4 separate regions of the Homo sapiens genome follow, and all the other regions are linked to region 1. Evidence: fine-mapped expression QTL. A gene starts in region 1. Each other region holds a variant in brackets. All regions are shown on one strand. Distances are between the middles of the regions.

Region 1 (5,154 bases):
GCTTAAAATTGAGGTTATTCTATTCATTTATGGTTGTTAAGATTCATGACAATTAGAACATAATTTAAACTCACCATTGTTTTTATAAAATAAAAAATATCAGCATCTGTAATAACTAGGTATCATAGATGAAGTAATCAATTCCCAGGAAAATGCAAATAATTATTTAATGTGTCTCTTAGCTGGTTACTTTACCTTTTAATTTGATCAGTTACATCTACATGGTTAACGTTTCCCCAAAAATTGAATCTTTAGCCGTTTGATTTGACTTTCCTATCAAGATAGCTGCCGGCAGGTGCCCTGGGAAATTCTCCCGCACGCCAGAAATCTCTTCGTAACAGAAATCAGTGTACAAAACCTGAATGCCCTTTCCCGCTTCAATTTTTGGCTATGAAAATTAAGGGACTTGACATATTCAAAATAACCAAGGTATGGAAATATTTGCTATAGGAGTTTTATTTTGAATTGCTAAAGTTAAGTTTATAGCAAATGAAGTCTTTCCCCAGATTTCCTTTTTCCCCCTAAATTGAATACTTTCTAAGCTAGCATGACTGACGCTTCCTGGCAAGGCAAGTGAATTTGGAGAAAGGCAACACTTTCCTCCTGTTTATATTTATAAAATGCATTATTGCGAACTATTACTCCACATTCTTCAACTCTAAATATTTAAATAGACTAATCAAAAAATATTGGGAAATGTGAACATTTCAAGTGTAAAGATGATGCTTCCTTTTTCCTCTTTTAAAAGTCATATTCATTATTCAATCCGGTGACTTTCTCAATATCAATGCCACTTTGTGTTGGCATTATCTTTGGAGGACACTAACAGGTCTGTTTCAAAATGATAATTTCAAACAACAAAGTGAATCGCAAGCGCACACTTAGCAGCTGAGAGGTAAATGAGAACCACAACATCACCTCCCTTCTGAAACCAAAGGCTCCAAAACCTTTTGAGGAAGTTGTGGGGGCCAATCCCTCCCAGTGGTCCTGACGTTCGGTCATAATGAATGACTGTTTGCTATTGACATTTATGCCTGCTGACTGTCTGGATAATTTCTATTATTGGAAGAGGCAATAAAGGACCTGGTGACGGTTCGAGGGCACACAGGAAACGGTCTGGTAGAAACTTATCTTAGGCCAATGCAAAGATGAAAATTCTTCAGGAAAGATGGACAACCCCAAACACACCTAACGTTGCCTCCTGCTTTCAAACAACTGGCAAAGCTGATCAATTCTAGCTGTGTTTTTCCAACCGTTCTTTATACTTCTACCTCACTTAAAAAAAATCAGCACATTTCAAATCATGATTAGAACTGAACTTTCTCCTGCAGGCTCACTAGGAACTGACAATAACACAGGTTCCTCTAGGAGAGAAGGGTCGGCATGAGAAGAATCTTTTAATTCTTCCTGGCATGCACACAGGCTACGATGGCACTGGGGGCATTGCTCTCATATTGGAGCGATTGCTAATTTTGCAAAATCCCCAGTGTGAAAGCCCTCCCTTGCTGTAGCATTGACTAACTTCAGCGCGGCCCAGCCCCAGGAATATCAGTAACAAGGCACAGCTGAGTTTGTCAGTGGCCGCTGTCAGCCGGCTGCTTTTCCTGCTTTCCTGGTTTGCGGTTTTTTTCTACCACTAACAAAATATGATGCTTCTTTCTGTTTTCCTGTATTCATTTCTGCTTATTTCTCCAAGGACGAGCCCTGTGTTCTCTTTACGACCCAATGTTTACAAATCGACGGGCACCACATTGAGTAAAAACTGCCAGCCAATTTGGAGAGGCGATCGCAGGGCTTCGCCTATCCCTTCCTCCGGGACAGTTTGGATGGGAGTAGCTGGCGCGAGGGCTCGTTCCCCCGTTTTTGGGTAATTCCTTTGGCACTGGGAGACGAGATGGCCTCCGGAGGGTGGAAGGCAGTGCCAGCCCGGCCGGCCACTGGGGACTGCGGGGCCCGGAGACGCGCGGGGTCCCCGGGGAGCTCCTCGCCGCCCTCGCCCCACTTCGTCCGGGTCCCTCAAACATGTCGCAGCGTGGCTGCTCACTGTCCCCTCTGGGCAAGAGGAGGCCCCAGACATTTCCACGGGATCTGAACTCCCGAGCGCCCTGCACGGAGCAGCCATCCCGCCAGCACCCCAAAGTGAAGCTGCTCACAACGGACAAGCCCGGAGACCCCATGAGAGGCCGGGGTGGAGAAGCCGGGGGTGAAGGGGGGCAGGGGCCGGCGCGCCACGCGGTCCTTACCTTTCCGCTTGGACCTCCGCCTCCTCCTCCTCTTGGACTTGCATTTGAGTTGACTGCTCAGCCCTCCAGACCCTCTGCCGCTCCCCAGGACCGAGGCCATGGCCGAGACCCAGGCGCGGAGCCCAGAGCCGCCTCCCTCCTGCACCTGCACCTGCCTCCTTCCCGGCAGCCGCCGCCGCCGCTGCTGCGAAGCTTGAGGTTGCAAACCCGGGAGCGGCTCACTTTTCAGGACTGAGCAGGAAAGCGCGCTCCGTCTCTCTGTCTCTCGAATTGTTCTCTATGACTTGCTCCCACTGGGCTGGGGGCCTCGGCTGGGCGCCTGGAGCGAGCTGCTCCCTGGTCAGGGAGGGCGGGGAAGGGCGCGCGGCGTCCTGAGTGCTCCGAGCTTCCCGCGGGCTCTGCCTCCTGCTCTGGGCTCCCAGCGCAGGGAGGCTACTTTTGCGCCTCTGCTAGTTGTTTGGCACCAGCCACTTTGAAGCCAATCACGCAGGGAGCTTGTCTATTTGCTGCAGCAGCGTCTAATTAGATCCAATCACAACTGCTTTCTGGCTCTGACATCAGCAGCAGCACCAGCCGCACCGCCGCCTGGCCGCTTGCAAACTCAGCTCCCGTTTGGACGGTGAAGCTCCCAGGACCGGCGGCTGGAGGGAGGCTGCTCCCGGGGAACAAGGACGCGGCGCGGGTGCGTCTGGGAGAGACCGGGGGAGCCTCCAGGAGGGACCCTGCCCGGGAGGACGAGGCCTCCTGCCGCAGCCTCGCGGACAGCTCAGCTCGCCCTGCTCAGAAAGACACAGGGACGGGTTTTTCCAACCAACAGTTTTTAACTAGTCAATTCATTACCATGCTCCTTGTGTCAAGGGGGGGAAATACCTCTTTCAGAAATGCAGAGACCGCACTTCCTCAGAAACGGACTGAGGTTTGCAATTCCCCAGGAGACAGCGTCCTGAGGGGCATTTATTCCTCAGAGCCTGCATGCTTGTCTGTTTGCCTCTTCTTTCCCCTCTTCATATTCCTTGGCCGTTTCCAATGCAAAAGATAAATCTTGCATAAAGACAGAGGTTTTGGGATCTGAGTCTGATTTTTGCCGTCAGGAATTTCATGTGTTGCTTTATTTAGGGAACAATGACACAAAAGGAAGAGAAAGCTCTCAGCGGAGAGTTTTGTTGCCAAATGTAATATTTGGATGGAAGAAAGTAACATTTACAAAGAGGTGGATTGCACACTGAAATAGTTTTAAGCAATTTTTTTTTCCAGGAATGTCCTATGTTTCAAGATTATACTTATGGAACCCTGGAAGTCTTATGTAAAATATAAAGAGGAATAGAATCTGGTAATCATCATTGCATCTTGTATTTAAATCACATAAGCTTTTAATTACAATAGTCATGTTTTTAAAAAAATCCACTCTAAAATTCATTAGCACACATTAACATGTTGATATAAAAATGGCACACAAATATTTCTGCTATTCATTGCCTCACATGCAACCTTTTCAGCTGCTTATGTGCCTAGAAATTTCCAGATAATTTTTATCATAAGAAAAAAGAATCACTCTGGGGGACATTGGAAATAATTAGGATGATCCTGTGTTGTTATGTGCTGAGCTGATAGATCGTAGCTCAGTTTTCATTGATGAGAGAGAGTAAGACATTTGATTTCAAATCTTAACTCTACTGCTATGACCTCGGGTAAGTTAAACCGTGCCTCAGTTTCCTCATCTGTAAACTGGGGATAACAACGTCACCCACCTCATAAGTTCATTCATACTCGTTGAATCAGTATCAACCAGTATAGACAGGAACTGGAACATGTTAATTACTCTATGATTATTTATTAAATTTTTTCCAGCAAATAATTTGGAAGGAATGAGCGTATGTTGCAGACAAGCCTCAGAAAGACAGGGCTTCTGCGTTTTCCTTTTAGAATGTTGAACCTTCTAGTCCAACTCAGACTGAGGACCACAATCAAACCAACATCCCTCTTCAGGGCTGGCTTCAACAACCCTGTTCCCATGACAGCACAGCTCAGCTCTGCTGATAATTCCCAGCGAGGGTTGAGAAGGCACATAGCTCTCTCACTTCCTCTCTGCAATACCCGAGATATTTGAGTGCTTAAACTATATCGAGAAACACAGCTCTAGGACTCTGCCTGTGAAACTTCTGAGCTTCACACAATGTGCTGCACTAATCCAGAGTTGCCCTATTTCTGTATCTGCAGAAAACCCATCAGGGGGTGGAGTCACCGAAGGAAGGTGCTTCAGAAGAGCTTCACACACACACACAGCCCCCACAAGGTGGTCAGCATTTATTAATGGCCCCAATAGCTCCATCATCACACGGAGCAACCGTGCTGTCTGGGAGACTCGTATACATGAACCCTTGTTTCACTCCAAGGGCAGGTATGGTGGCCGGAAAGTAACGTGTCTGTTAAATGTTCTTCTGATGTTGGTGGAGTGGGGAAACAAAACTGAAAACTGTCTTTGAACACTTCATTTAGACCCTAATTTGAAAGTTACGATCGAAATTTTGGCAAACCTTTTTCTTGAAGTTCCTCCAATTGGTTCTTTTTTGTATAATTTATGAAAATGCTGTTTTCACAGATACTTGCTGTTTTCTGTATTTTATTTATTTTGCATAAGACGATGCATAATAGATGATGCTAGGGCGACGGCTAGGCGAGAAAGCCTTTGTTTCTCATCACAGAGGGGCTTTAAAGAAGAGGCTCGCAGCGACAAGTGCGTTAACTCCAGCGTGGTTTCCAGCACGTCTCACTCTGCTGTTGCAAGCAGGGCTGCGAGTGAGCAGTGCTGGTAAGCTGCCATTCCCCGATGAGCCTCCTCACCTCCTGCCTGTTTCCCACAGTGCCTCAGCGCAGCTTTGCAACGTGGTGGGATGAGCAGCAGTTGGAAGAG
Region 2 (5,154 bases), 120 kb before region 1:
TCTGCCTCATGGGAACTGACCTCAGAGGGTTGCATTCTGTCGCTAGATGTTTGTGTGCCCGTCCAGACACACTCCACACCGCCCTGCTGTGCTCTGCCTCCTGGGAACTGACCTCAGAGGGTTACATTCTGTCGCTAGATGTTTGTGTGCCTCTCCAGACACACTCTGCACTGCCCTGCTGAGCTCTGCATCCTGGGAACTGGCGTCAGAGGGCTGCATTCTGTTGCTAGATGTTTGTGTGCCCGTCCAGACACACTCCACACCGCCCTGCTGTGCTCTGCATCCTGGGAACTGGCCTCAGAGGGTTGCATTCTGTCGCTAGATGTTTGTTTGCCTGTGCAGACACACTCCACACCACCCTGCTGAGCTCTGCATCCTGGGAACTGGCCTCAGAGGGTTTTGCATTCTGTTGGTTTCAGTGATAGGGAGGGAGGCTCAAGGGTTAGTTTTCCTTCCAGTCTGTTTGACAGTTGCTGTGTTTCTCTTAAGCTCAAAACTTTTGTTGGACGGCTCTTCCCCTCCAACTACAGATTTCCCTGAGTTCAGTGAATTGCTGTCCACTTTTTTCCCCTAAGGCTGCATCTCCCCGGGAGCTTCATCATGCCCTTTAGTTTCTGTGACATTCTCTGCACCTTTAAGACGACTTCCTTTATTAAATTTCTTACTTAACCCTCTGAGTGTGCCATCTGCTGCCTGCCCAAACAGGTGTACCTAAGTTCCAGCCTTTACTCTAACAGAATGCCTTTAGGTGAGTCACAGAATTGCTCTGTAAATTAGAAGAGCAGGCTTGTTTATGAACTTTTCTTATTTAAGATCCTATAAGTCCAGCTTTACTTTAAAAAATCCACCACCATGACTATAACCTCTTTACTGCCATTCAACAACCCCAAATTATAACTGTTTAGTGGATATTGTAAAAGTATGTATAGCTTATCACCTTTTTAATAAGTCCAATAATGCTTCAAACTTAAGATGAATGAGAAGATTCTACCAACCCTGAAAATTCACATACCTATAGAAAATTCTGATTATTCAACCATAAGACACTTCATAATAATTTGCAAAAGTAATTTTTACTTTCAACAAGTCATTTTTTTTGTTCAAGTACAGTGTCACTAGGTTTAAAAATCAGATTTTTTTTTGAGAGAGGGTCTTGCACTTCACATATGCTGGAGTGCAGTGGCCCAATATTGGCTGACTGCAACCTCCATCCCTGGGGCTCAGGTGATGCTCCCCTCTCAGGCTCCCAAAAGTCAGATCTTAAGTGGTGCCACCTAGCAAGTTTGAGGTAGTTAAAAATCTGTGACGTGGTAATCGACAGTTTCTCAATGAATTAAATACAAATAAAAGAGTATTGTTTTGTTGGAGAGATCATTGTGGCAGGCTCAACAACAAAAACATTAAAGCCACTAAAAACAAATCACAGGCGAGATTTCCAGCAATGGCCATTTGAAGAGAAAATTAAACCCTCTCCTCCAAAAGCAACTATACAGCTGAAACCCCTGCCCCCTGCAGCTTGTAGAAGTTCTGTCAGATTAAGGCAGGCTGCGAAGGAACTGTAGCTTCTTGGCTGCAATTAATGGATCACCTGGCTTGGAGGAATGAATGGTGTAAAATAATCAACAGAGGAGTTAAAGTGATACACTCAGTTATTCAGGAAGAGATTGAGAAGGCGAGAGACATGTGGAAAATAAATTGCAAAATGGTAAATGTAAATCCAGCCATATCATTAGTTGCATTAAATATGAATGGTCTAAACACCCAAATAAAAAGAGCAGAGATCATCAGATTAGATAAATAAGTAAGATTTAGCTACATGCTGTCTACAAGATACATTTTAGAATCAAAGACACAAATACATTGAAAGTAAAAAAAAAAAAAAAAAAAGAAAAAATACGCACCATACAATGACTCTAAAAAAACTACATTTGCTGTATTATTTATTGATAGAACAATTAGGTGGAAAATTAAATGACAGTATTAATCAACTCAATCTATTTAACAAAAATA[A/G]GCACTTCATGTAATAACTGCAGAACATGTATTTTTGTTTTTTCAGAGTCTCGCTCTGTCACCAGGCTGGAGTGCAGTGGTGCGATCTTGGCTCACTGCAACCTCCACCTCCCAGGTTCAAGCAATTCTCCTGTCTCAGCCTCCCAAGTAGCTGGGATTACAGGGGTATGCCACCATGCCCAGCTAATTTTTATATTTTTAGTAGAGATGGGGTTTCACCATGTTGGCCAGGAGGGTCTCAATATCTTGACCTAGAGATCTGCCCATATTGGCCTCCCAAAGTGCTGGGATTACAGGCATGAGCCACCATTCCCTGCCCACATATTGTTTTTAAGGACAAGAAACATTTTACGAATAGATAATATGCTAGATTAGAAAAAAAATCAATACATTTAATAGAACTGGCATCATATAATGATGTTTTTGACCACAATGAAAGTAAATCAGAATTGAACAACAGAAAGAAATCTGGAAAATCTGCAAATATTTAGAAATTAAACAATATACTTCTAAATAACCCATGGATCAATAAAGGAAAAACAAGAAAAATAAGAAAAAAATTTAACTGCACTAAAACAAAATTATATTAAAATTTATGGGGTGCAACTAAGACAGTAGAGGGAAATTTATAGCTTTAAACACCTATATCAGAAAGAAAGGAAGATCTCAAATCAATATTCTAAGCTTCCATGTGAATATAGTAGAAAAATAAGAGCAAACTAAAATCAAAGTAAGACATAATAAAGATTAGAGCAAAAATCCATGAAATAGAAAACCAAAAAAATCAACAAATTGACATATTTAGATTGACCGACCAGTAATAAAAGACAGAAGACACAAATTATGAAAATTAGAAATGAAAGAAGAAACATTATCACCAATCTACAAAAATTAAAGGGGTCATAAGCACATGTTATGGGCAACTTTATGGCCCAAATGAGGCAACTTAGATGAGATGGGGGAAATTACTGGAAATGCGCAGATTTCCAAAAATGACTAAAGAGGAAATAAAAAAACTACAAAAATAACAATTAAGAAAATTAAACTAACAATTAGAGATCCCTTTACACAAGAAAAGGCCCAGGCCCAAATGGTGTCACTGGTGAATTTGTTAAATAAAGAAAAAATACTAACAATCTTTTACAAACTGTTCTAGAAAATGCAGAAGGGGAGACGACTCTCCATTCATTCAGTTGTTCTAATATTATATTGATAGCAAGCACAAAAATATCACAAAAAGTATAGCCCAAGATTTCTTATGAATATGGATGTGAAACTATTAACACAACATCACCTAACTGAATCAAGCACCATATGAAAAGGGTGTATGTAAAGACCAAGTTAGATTTACGCCTACAGTGAAAAGTTGGCCTAAAATGTAAAAATCACCTAGTGTAATATACTATATTAATCAAATAAAGATCAGACACCTGATTATCACAATACATGCAGAAAAAAGTATTGGAAAAATCCAGTACTCATTCATGACAAACTCCCTTAACAACTCTGAGTACAATGGAACTTCTGCAAGCTATAAAAGGGCATATATGAATCACTCATGCCCAGCTCCATCCTTAGTCATGAGTGGCTGAGTGCTTTCCTGTAGATCAGGGACAAGGGAAGGATGTCTACTTTCACACTTGAATTCAACAGTATACTGCTGGTCCTTGCAAGTATGAGAACAAAACAAACAAAATAAACAAACATGCCAATCATTCAAGGCATCCAGCATAGGAAATATTAAAATGTATTCATTTGTAGATGACATGAACATCTATGTAGAAAATCTGATAGAATCAACAAAAAATATATTAGAACTAGTAGGTATTTTAGCAAGATTGCAGGACATATGATTAGTATAAACATATCAATCGTCTTTTTATATATTACTAACAATCTGAAAAGAAAAACAAGAACATTGTTACATTTACAAGAGCCTCAAAAATAAATAACTAGGAATAGTTTCTTCTTTTTCTTTTTCTTTCTTTCTTTTTTTTTTTTTGAGACAGGGTCTCACTCTGCCACTTGGGCTGGAGAGCAGTGGCATGATCACAGCTCACTGCAGCCTCGGCCTCCCAGGCTCGAGTGGTTCTCCTGCCTCAGCCTCTGGAATTGCTGGGACAGCAGGCACATGCCACCACATCCAGCTAGTTTTTGTATTACTTGTAGAGATGAGTTTTCACTGTGTTAGGAACACACTTAACAGCAACAACAACAACAGTGAAATGCAAGACTTGTGTACTGAAAACTACAAAACATTACTGAAAGAAATCAAAGGAGACCTAAGTAAATAGGGAGAAATTCCATGTTTCTGGATTTAAAGACTCAGTAATGTCAAGATGTCAAGATAACAATTCATCCCAAATTATCCATGGATTCAATGCAATCTCTGCCAAATCTCAAATCCCAGGATTTTTTTTGTAGAGAATGTCAAGCTCCTCTTAAAATATGTATGAAAATAAAATGCAAAGGATCTAATAGTAAAAAACAATTTTGCAAAAAAATAAAGAAAGAAAAAGGTTGGAAAACTTATACTAGCTGATTTCAAAATTTACTACCAAGGTAAGGTAATCTAGATAAATTGAACAGAGTTGAGGGTTCATGAATTAATGCTTACATCCATGGGCAACTAATTCCTCCAAAGGTACTAAGAAATTTCAATGGGGAAAGGATACTCTTTTCAAGAAATGGTTCTGGTTCTACTGTATACTCACATTCAAAGAAATGAATATACACCATTACCTTACACTATACACAAAACGCACAATGAACCACAGACCTAAAGACCCTAGCTAAAATTTTAAAACTCCTAGAAGAAAACAGGAAAAAATCTTTATTAGCTTGAATTTGGCAAATAATTCTTAGACACAACATAAAAGGCACAATTCATTAAGGAAATATCAAAAAGTTGGACTTCATCAACTTTTAAAACTTTGAGCTTCAAAACACATCTTTAATGAAAAAATAAATCTTATACAGGTTGAAAATATTTGCAAGTTATATATCTGATAAAGAACTTTTATCTAGAATATATATATAAAGAATCCTACAACTCAGTAATGACAAGAATCCAGTAAAAAGGAGTAAAATTTTGAACAGTCATGCCACTAAAGAGGACATGTAGAAAACAAAAACTTAAAAAGA
Region 3 (5,154 bases), 530 kb before region 1:
GTTTTCCGCCGTGACGCGGCCCTGTGAGGAGAAGTAACTCTCTAAAGTTACATGAAGCCTGCAGCAAAGTCCTCAGCTGCCACCCGTCCCGGCGTCTGCAGCTCTGCAGGGCTGGCTGTCAGGCCTGCTGCTGGGATCATCTGGGAGCTTTGAGGATCTCCAGAGGTCTGGCTCCCCCAAGGATTTTGGTGTGACTGGGGAGTCAGTGCGGCCATCAGCTTTCTCGGTGCCGCCCACGTGATTCTCCTGTGAGCCAGGGTTGAAGACTTCTGCAGCAAAGCGGCACATTTGGAGCCAACACAGTCAGGTACCAGTTAGGTCGTGATGCTGGTCAGTGGGGCCTCCCTTGACCGTTCTCTTGCTGCTCTGAGCGACTGTCTTCTCAGTGGACCTCAAAGTGGGATGTCTGGGCCAGCCATGGAGCATCACCTGAGAAGTTGATAGAAATGCAGATTCCTGGCTGCACCCCGGAGCTGCTGGCTCTTGAACTCTGGGGTGAGGCCCGGCAGTGCAAGTTCTAAGGAGGCTCCAGGTGGCTCTGAGGCTGCTCAGTTCGAGAACCACCGTCTCCGTGTTGGTTCTGGGGTCACAGTAACTGTATCTACCTTTCACGGCATTGGAAGAGCACAGGGGACAGTTGAATCTCTGGCCAGTCTGGGGGTGACATTTCCCTTCCTCCACACCCTACCTCCAAACCCTGTCTCACACCTTCTTCCTCCCACCTTTTGACAAGACAGGTAATAAGTCTGAGACGTCTCTGCATACAGGCCCCACCCCATTTCCAGGCCACTCAGACCTATTCTGGGGGCCTTTCAAGGTGAAATAGAAGCCAACAGCCTTTTGACTCAATAACACACCTGCTAGGAATTCACCCAGCATCTGCATTCTCAATGGAACGCCTGATATATGGATGGGGCCAGTCTTGAAGGGGCTGTTTGTAATTGCAAAGCAGACAAAGCACGGCAAAGCAGAAATGGGAAATCACCTGAGTGCGTCTTAACAGGGAACTGGTTACATAAATGATGGTGCATTATTGACACCCTGGCCTGCCTGACCATGGGTCCCACAGCTCTCGTGCCTCTGAAGCGGGCCTGGCTTGCTGGGACACCCTCAGGGCCAGGAGGCCACAGCTGCCCCACCTGCACCTTCTGTCGCGTGGACGCTCCGCCCCTCACTGGCTCCTGCCGGCCTCACCCGTCACATTGTGTAGGACGCTTGTGACTGCTCTAAAACCACAGGGCTTTCAAGCTGTCCCCTCCAAGGTCCCCTCCTGTGTCCAGCACCATCGTGACTGCCTCCTGCCGGGCTGCCCCTGCCTGGCCCTCAGGTGCCTGTGGTTTAAATCTCCTGGCATTGCTGAGCACGGGTCTGGTGTGCAGATGGAGGTGACTGATGCGTAGGAGGAAGCTGATGGACAGTTCGTCCCTTCGCCAGCAGCTGTGTTGTGTTCAAAGGTGGAAACAAACCAGCTAGGCTCTCAGTGACCCCACCCAACAGGCATTTCCTCAACGTGACTGTGACATCCACAGGGTGGGCCTGCACCTGCCTTGAGCCTCTGCAGCTTGGGATGCCTCAGCCTGAGGTGCTGGGATGATGCCACCTGGGACTGGGTCCCCTGACCTCCTGGGTTCTCCCTTAGGTCCCGGCCGCCATTCTGCAGAGACTCCTGAGTCCGTGAAGTGGATCCAGGGCCTCCAACCGCCCCAGCTGATCTGCCAGGAAAGGGGTCCCTGCTGCCCGGGGGCTGCCTCGGCTGGCGCCACGTGGAGATGAAGTGAGCCAACCCCCGAGCTCAAAGGGAGGGCTTGGGAGTACACGAGGGCCTTGTTGTTTTAGGGCCACCTAAAACAACAGGTTTTAGGTGGCCCTAGGGTTCTGAGGTGCTTTGCTTCACAGCAGGAGACAACTCACTGGAGCCCGTGGCACAGCCTGAGGGAGACAACTCACGGGAGCCCGTGGCACAGCCTGAGGGAGACAACTCACTGGAGCCCGTGGCACAGCCTGAGGGAGACAACTCACGGGAGCCCGTGGCACAGCCTGAGGGGTCTCTGGGTTGCCCACAGCTTCCCCAGGAGCTCACACAGGTCAGGCCAAGGGGAAGGGAGCCCAGTGCACACCCCCAGGCTCTGCGGTCCGAATGCTTGTGTTCCCAAAAATTCACATGGAATCCTCACCTCCCAGAGTGCTCCCCAGCCCCTTCCACCATGGGAGGACGCGGCACAGGGTGCCGTTACCACCTGGGAAGCACAGCCTCACCAGACGCGGAAACTGCTGGAGCAGAGACCTTGGCTTCCAGCCTCCAGCGCCAAGAGGAGCGGATTCCTGTCGTGGGCCAGCGTGTTCTGCGTGGTGGCCGGGATGGACCGAGACTGGGTAGATGCCATCCTGACTGCTGACGTTTGGGACGTGAGACATCTGGGGGCATGGGGCAGCCCGCTGCGGCCAGGTGGGGTCATGGGGCAGCCCACTGGGGTCAGGTGGAGGTCACGGGGCAGCCCGCTGGGGTCAGGTGGGGTCACGGGGCAGCCCGTTGGGGTCAGGTGGGTGTCACGGGGCAGCCCGCTGGGGTCAGGTGGTTCACGGGGCAGCTGGGCTCAGGTGGGGTGGGTGGGATATTCAGCCGCTTCCGATTATTTTCAGTAAATTACTTCCAGGCCACACATATCTCATTTCTCTTCTGAAAAACCCGTCTCAAAAACTCCCTTTCTCTTGATATTTCTCTGGCCAAGTCTACCCTGCAACACGCTGGTAAAATGTAAAATTCCTTCGCACGAGAGTGAAGAGGATGATCCCCAGGTGCGTCTCTCCATTCCCGGGTCCTAACGATTCCTCCTTAAGCCGGCTACCTG[C/T]GCGGGGGCCACGCTCTCCCACTGGGAGGATGGTTTCTGGGACATGCGGCGTCTCCTCCTTGTGCCTGTGCGTCTGAGAGAACTGGGGCGTCTCCTTGAACTGGGACGTCTCCTCCTCGTGCCTGTGTGGTCTGAGAGAACTGGGGCGTCTCCTCCAACTGGGGCGTCTCCTCCTCGTGCCTGTGCGTCTGAGAGAACTGCGGGGTCTCCTCCTCGTGCCTGTGTGGTCTGAGAGAACTGCGGGGTCTCCTCCTCGTGCCTGTGCGGTCTGAGAGAACTGCGGTGGCCCCTTGTGGGCCTCTTGGTTCTGGGGACAGAGGACACTTTTCACTCAGCCCGGGGACCTTTGGTTCTTTCTGTGAAGATGGCGCCCATGAGATGACGCCTTGTGACTCAGGTACCTCAGCCCTGCGCCTCCGTCTCTGCGTCTCTGTATTGGGTTGGTGGCGTCCACACTGTCTGCGTCGTTGCTGAGCATCCCAGGTCCCCACTCAGCCCGGCCTCGTGTTTTCTCTTGTCCTCCTGACTGGAGTTCCAGTTCTTACCTTGCAGATGGTGCGCTTGTCACCCTCTGCCGTCTCCACAGCATCTGGGCCGGGTCCCCCCAGGAACTGGGCTCTGGTCTCAGGAGCTGTGGCCGAGGTCGGTGGTGCTGGTGCAGGAGGGCAGAGCCGCGAAGGCAGCGGGGCTGCTGATTGTTTCATTATTACTTTTTATATTTGATAAGTGTTAGTGAATTGATCACTGCTTCTTTCCTCACTAGAGGTGTTATGTCACTTAAGGCCGGGCGCGGTGGCTCACCCCTGTAATCCCAGCACTTTGGGAGGCTGAGGCGGGTGGATCACTTGAGGTCAGGAGTTTGAGACCAGCCTGGCCAACGTGGCGAAACCCTGTCTCTACTAAAAATACAAAAATTAGCCGGGAATGGTGGTGTACGCCTGTAATCCCAGCTACTCGGGAGGCTAAGGCAGAGAATTGCTTGAACCTGGGAGGCAGAGGCTGCAGTGAGCCGGGATCACGCCATGCACTCTAGCCTGGGTGACAAGAGCAAGACTTCATCTCAATCTGTACAATTTTACTCTTTTAAAAGGAGTAAAAATATTTTTAAACCAGACTGGGGGAACTTGGGGTTCGGTGTTTAAAAGCAGTTCTGTTAGGAAGGACCTACACTCTGAGATTAGAACAATGAACATCACTCATTTGACCTCAGTGGAGTCAACAAATCATGGAGGAAGGCGTCAGAATTGTTCCCAGGTGGGCTGCGTGGCCAAGAGGAGGCACGAGAAGCTGTTGTTGAGGGAACATTGAGCAGCTGATCTCTAGGTGGGGGGAGACGGCACTCTGCACAGGCTAAAATTTAGGTTTAGAAATCAGCCAGTGCCGTATTCCCCAGAGAGCAGCTGTAATTTCTTATGGTTCATTTTCATGGAGAAAGTTTTAATCTGTTCATTTAAAGACACATTGTGATCAATAATCAAGCTCAGGTACTTAAAATTAGAAACCATATCTGAAGGAACATTAGTTCCAGGAGATTTAGATTTTTTATATGCCGCTCAATGTTTGATTAATCTTAGAGACAAAAGCTAAAAGCACCTCTGCAGTTTTCCTCATTCTTTTAGGAGCCTGGGGTTTGGCTGTTGGTGAGAGTCTAGCCTGGCTCCATAGAGCTGGAAAAACAGGCCGCGTCCACAGGCCTTCAGGATGGGACTGTTAGGCCTGCGGTGTCCGACCCTCTTCCCATGCAGGGGCAGGGTTTGGTCTCCAGGGCACTCCTAACCTTACCTTGTGGCTTTGCAGGTCAATTCTTATTGACCTGTGACTACCACTTTCTGCAGTTCCATCCCATCTTCCCAGGGCTATGGTGGTGGTAGGATTTTAGGAATCGAGTTTACTGTGACTTTATCTGTTCTCTGATTTCCTGAAGACCGGATAGGTGATTTCTCTCACCTGCCAGTGCCAGCCTCCTAGGGCTGCTGTGGGACAACCACAGTGGGGTGGCTTGAAACAGGGATGTTCCCCCAGTTCTGGAGGCCAGAGTCTGAAAAGGTGTCTGCAGGGTCGTGCTTTCCCTGGGTGCGTGTGGCTGGTGCCACCCCCCGGGGTCCCTGTCCTCCAAGCACCCACTGGCTCTGAGGTCACAGAGGAGGCCAAGGACACCTGGGTGTGTCTGTCCCTGGCCCCAGCACTCAGGTGCAGGCAGCCGGGCCCCATGCTGGGCTCTGTCCCTGCCTCCCATTCTCTCACCTCCCTGCTTCCCCAGCCCCTTTGCATCAGCACGAGGCCCTGGGCGGACTGAGGTGCCTCA
Region 4 (5,131 bases), 490 kb before region 1:
TCTTCCTGCCTCTGTGCCTGCACTCTGCCCACAGCCACCATCCCCCACTGCCCCGGCTGCCTCCCCCAGGACCCTTGGCAAATGTATCCCAAGCCTGGGCCCCGGCACAGGGCCTGTCAGCCACGTGGCTGCCCTGGACTCCCCCTCCCCTGTGCTGGTTCCCCATGCAGGGCAGGCGTCGGGTGCACCTGTCTGTGGACCCCCCCAGCTGGTGGCACAGCACCAAGCATGTAACCAGCTCCTGGTAAATATTGGTCCAGTTGCCTTCTCTGACACAAACAAGAGTGAGGGATCTTGGTGATAGTCCCAGTTGAGCAGGTGGACATTTAGGAGAAATCCTTCCCTACATTCTGAGATATTTCTGTTCCCCCATATCCAACTCCTGCTGCACCCCGCAGGCCTCAGGGAACTGAGGGATGGGTTCAACCTGTGGCTCCCTGCTCAGAGGCTCAGATAAGAATGAGCTGAGTGTGGGCTGAGCACAGTGGCTCATGCCTGTAATCTCAGCACTTTGGGAGGCCGAGATAGGGTGACCACTTGAGGTTAGGAGTTTGACAACGTGATGAAACCCCGTCTCTACTAAAAATACAAAAATTAGCCAGGCGTGGTGGTGAACGCCTGTAGACCCAGCTACTCAGGAGGTTGAGGTGGGAGAATTGCTTCAACCCGGGAGGCAGAGGTTGCAGTGGGCCAAGATAATGCCATTGCACTCCAGCCTGGGCGACAGAGCAAGACTCCATCTCAAAAAAAAAGAATGAGCTGAGTGTGTTAAGGTGTTGTTTTCAGCAGCGTCTGCTTAGGGCTACACGTGGGCCTTTCTCCTTTTGTGTGGCTTTTGCACAGCTAATGGGCATGGAGATGACCCTTGCCAAAGCCCCCCAAGGTCCCATTACTCGTAGATTTGAGGAACGCAGATGGCTTCAAGGGATGTGAAAGAGTAGACAGCAGACACAGGAGGGAGCGTTTCAGGAGAGGAGCCCACAGTGAGCCCTTGGGACTGAATGGCCCAGCCTGGGGGTGTGTCGCGGAGGCCACGTGCTGCAAACCACCTGGGTTTTGCTCCTCTCTAAAGTGTCTCAGGGACAGGAGGCTGCCCCATGACAGCCACCAATGCCTGATGGCCAGAGCAGGCCAGGGAACCCTGGGAATCCCAATACTGGGGCACAGTTCTCAAGGCCTCAGCGGCCTCTTCACATGTACTTGGCACAGGAGGCAAGAAGACAGCGCGTCTCCAAGCCACCCCTTGGGCACTGCACTCACGTTCTCTGAGGGCAACGGCGGAAAAGGGGGCAGTGCAGGAATGTGGGGGGCATGGGGAACCGAGGCCAGGAGAGGGTGGCCTTGCCCGGAAGGACGAGGGCTGCAAAGGTGTTTTCTGGAGGGAAACGTGGAGTAAGGAGGAAGCCTGGAATTTTAGCATCTTCCCAGCGCACACGGCGGCTTTATTGGTGTGCCAGGGATGTCTCTAGTCTGAATAAAAAGGGATGCTTTCTGGCTCACCCTGTGCCAGGATAGAGGGAAGCGTGTTCTGAGCCAGGCATGGGGCCCCATCTGCTCCCTGGCAGCCCCCAGCCGCGGCGTCCGCCTTCCCTGGAGCCCGTCCCCAGCCGCTCACCTCAGGTGCAGCTCCAGCTGCGTGTAGAGGAAGTGCAGGAACGCCCGCCGGGCCACGACCTCCGCGTGGCAGTCATTCACCACCAGCCCCTGGTCACTGAGGTGCTCGCCGCTGATGCACTTGGTCCCCGAGGACAGGGCCACGACCTGCGCCTGCCGAGCATCCAGGCCTGGGGACACAGATAGCATCAGAGCAGCGTGGCCCACGGCCCCCGTCTCCCTCCTCCTCGGTCTTTTCAGGGTCTCACAACAGCGGTTTCCCTGGGTTAGGAAACCTTGGAAACACTGCGTTTTGAGAGCTGGGAAGCGAGGCTTCTGTGTGCTCCAGGCTGTCACGGGTGACCGCCCGCCTGAGGGATTCCCATCTACTTCATGGTGGCCTGAGACAGCGCTCAGAGTGCCTCTGCTATCCTTAAGGTTGCTGAAATGCTCCTTAGGCACCATAGGAGCAGAGTTTTGAGGTCAAACTTACTACCAGG[A/G]CAGTTTTCTCCACCTGAGTCCCAGGTCCCCTGTGAGTGGGAGCAGTGCTAGCTGCGGCCTGGGCTTCCTGCCCAACCTCTAACCACCTTTGTGCTTTCTCCTGTCCTCCAACGGGATCAGGGCAGGACAGGAGCTGATGAACCCTTCACCCTAACACAGAAACACAGGACAGGAGCTGATGAACCTGTCATACTAACACAGAAAGGAGGCTGGATGTGTCATTTTAACCATAGTCAAAGGAACCCCATCCACAAAAATGATACTCTCTTCAGGGACTGAAAACAAACAACAAAGAAACCTCAAAAACAACCCCCAACGTAATGTCCTTAAAGTATAATATTCATCACTTTGTTTAAGGAGGAGAAGCTGGAAGACACAAGCCAATGTTTGCTGTGCTCTAACAGGTCTGTGTGGATGTGTATTTTCTCTGCACTTAGATGGTGAATTCCTTGAGGACACGAGTCAGAATTTCCACCAAATACTCCAAGCAAGGGCTCCCTAGGGAGTCCGTGTCATTAGACGGGTCAGTGTTGCCGATCCAATAACAAATCCATCATCCAGGCCCTTCGGCTGGAGGTGGCAGGAATGTTGCGGGTGCCCAGGAGCCTTGGGATGTGACAGCCACTGGCTGGGCCCGGATCGCAGGCCAAGGGAGGGCAGCACGGAGACGCGTTAGCCGCTGACCGCGGCCACGTCCACAGAGTTACCTGTAAATACACGTCCGGACCATTTCTTGGAAGAGGTGACACACAAATTAATGTCACGCCAGAAGCAGGCCTCCCTCCCATCTTAAATAAAATCGACTAATTAATGTCACGCCAGAAGCAGGCTTCCCTCCCATCTTAAATAAAAACAGTGCTGGCTGGTCATGAGCGCTTCTCGCTTCTCACACACTTGTTCCTCTGATGTGACTTTTTCTCCCCTGAGAACTTAGTTCTTGAGCCCTGAGGGCATCTGCCCTCTCTGGGCCTCACCGTGGGATCTTTCTTCGTGAGATAAAAGGGTGGTGTCAGCAGCTACCAGTGACAGCCAGGGAGAATTCGGGGCCGGGAGGGACCGAGCACTGGGGAAGTAACCTGCAGAGGCCCAGCAGCATCCTTGCCCCCATGGCTCTGCAGCTGGGGTCTGTCTGTCCAGCCTCCTTCCTTCCAGGCAAAGCGGTCTAGCACAGCCCCCGCCTCCTGCCCATGTCCACTGCTCTCTCCGCTCATCCCAGCTTCTCCCAGCAGCCCCCGTTTCTGTGCCCGAAGAGAACTCCATGGTCCTGGTCCTGTTGTCTACCCACTGCCCCCTCCCTGGTGGGACGGGACTGCTCCTGAGCTCAGGAAGTGACCAGACTTCCCCACGCCGCTTTAATCAGAACAGGACACGACCAGCCGCCCTGAGGTTCCTCCCCCAGGAAAGCTCGTGAGCAGCTGCCGGGTTCCAGGTCCAGGCCTCCTCCTCTCTCAGCCATCCTGGGTGCGGGGGCTGCCCCCTAGCGGGGGTCCCAGAAGTTGACGAGCAGATGGGACCAGGATCTAAGGCTACAGGGAGCTGGGGTGGGCAGCTGCTACTGACTCTGCCAGGGGTGGGAGCCACCATCTCACTCAGGCCGTCAGTGACATGTGGACTGTTGAGAAATGGTTCACAAGGATGACATCGTGATGCAGAAACCACCCCTCAGGTTCCAGCTTCGTTAAAGCTGGTATTTAGAGAAATGGGAAACACATTGATAACGATTCCTAACCAGTTTCAGTGTTCACGACCGGTGCGCATGCAGTCTCTGGTGGAAACGGACAGCTCTTCAGGAATAGGTGCTGTGGCCTGTGAGGCCCCGGCCTGCTCCTTCTCTTTGGATTCCGTGGAAATTGGAGCTGTAGAAAAAAGCAACTGCTTTCCCTTTACCCCTCATTGATTCCCAGCTCCGTTTGGCTCCAGACTCTGCCACACTCAGCACAATTACGTGGCCCAAGAAGTGTTTGCATATTCAGTTTTCATGATTCTCACCCCCACCGCCAGCACCACGTTCCCAACACAGGAGACGCGAAGCCTGGACCGAGGGAGATGACGCGGTCAGAAACGGCTGCAGCATGAGATGTCGTATGAGAAATGTCGCGGAAGTGCTGTACATGGAATGTCACCAGCATGACAGTGAGGGAGGAAAAGGGAGAGACGGACTCACACCCAGGGAGCTTCTGCACAGGTGGCAGGAGGAGGCGTCCTAGGCAGAGTGGGCATGGTGGTCAGAGGCACGGATAGGAAAGGGCACAGGCATATTCTGCATAATCTGCGTATTCTACGGGCCGTTGGAGCCCGTAGGAGATGTGTGTGGGAAAGTGGCGAAGCTTCAAAGGTGGGTGGAAATCAGTCACAGACGCCTTGAGTACCACCCTGAAGATCTAGCTCTTCACCAATAGACAATGGGAGCTGTGAAAGGGTTTTCCGGAAGGACAGCAGTACTGTTGCCCATGAGTGAGTGCTGGGTTGCACAGGAGGAGAGAAGGGGCCAGGACACTGGGTGGGAGGCTGGGGCTGGACATGGTGCATGAGGACTTAGGAAGCACCCTCAGGAGTGGATTGGTGGGAGGGACCCAGAGAGCACAGCAAGGACCGAATCCACAGGATTTGGGAAATTTACACAGAAGATGAGGGAGAGGAAGAAGCCAGAAAATGTGCTTGAGTACCACACATTACAAATGAGAAATAGGAAGATTTTTATTTATTTACTTATTTTTTGTTTTTTCTTTTTCTTTTTTATTATACTTTAAGTTTTAGGGTGCACATGTGCACAACGTGCAGGTTAGTTACATATGTATACATGTGCCATGTTGGTGTGCTGCACCTGTTAACTTGTCATTTAACATTAGGTATATCTCCTAATGCTATTCCTCCCCCCTCCCCCCACCCCACAACAGGCCCCGGTGTGTGATGTTCCCCTTCCTGTGTGCATGTGTTCTCATTCTTCAATTCCCACCTATGAGTGAGGACATGCGGTGTTTGGTTTTTTGTCCTTGTGATAGTTTGCTGAGAATGATGGTTTCTAGCTTCATCCATG

The links. PIP is the estimated chance that this variant, and not a neighbour inherited with it, causes the effect.
Region 2: its variant is the best candidate, but not a certain one, in a credible set for the expression of ADARB2 in lung (TOPMed, PIP 0.66).
Region 3: its variant is the best candidate, but not a certain one, in a credible set for the expression of ADARB2 in spinal cord (GTEx, PIP 0.78).
Region 4: its variant is the best candidate, but not a certain one, in a credible set for the expression of ADARB2 in prefrontal cortex (GTEx, PIP 0.85).

What each region holds. Positions count from the first base shown.
Region 1 is chr10:1,734,808-1,739,961 of GRCh38, forward strand. It overlaps ADARB2 (adenosine deaminase RNA specific B2 (inactive)), which reads right to left and starts at 2,718. Exons shown (of 10, transcript NM_018702.4): 1 at 2,244-2,718. The coding sequence starts at 2,343. RefSeq lists an enhancer at 2,050-2,646 and a silencer at 2,608-2,667.
Region 2 is chr10:1,617,422-1,622,575 of GRCh38, forward strand. The region is part of intron 1 of ADARB2 (adenosine deaminase RNA specific B2 (inactive)); the gene reads right to left. Among named protein-coding and RNA genes, the nearest start is that of ADARB2-AS1, 93 kb to the left of the region's middle. The variant A/G (reference allele first, on the strand shown) is at 2,011.
Region 3 is chr10:1,203,435-1,208,588 of GRCh38, forward strand. The region is part of intron 7 of ADARB2 (adenosine deaminase RNA specific B2 (inactive)); the gene reads right to left. Among named protein-coding and RNA genes, the nearest start is that of LINC00200, 46 kb to the left of the region's middle. The variant C/T (reference allele first, on the strand shown) is at 2,850.
Region 4 is chr10:1,240,516-1,245,646 of GRCh38, forward strand. It overlaps ADARB2 (adenosine deaminase RNA specific B2 (inactive)), which reads right to left. Exons shown (of 10, transcript NM_018702.4): 5 at 1,616-1,784. Among named protein-coding and RNA genes, the nearest start is that of LINC00200, 83 kb to the left of the region's middle. RefSeq lists enhancers at 1,095-1,606, 1,607-2,117. The variant A/G (reference allele first, on the strand shown) is at 2,094.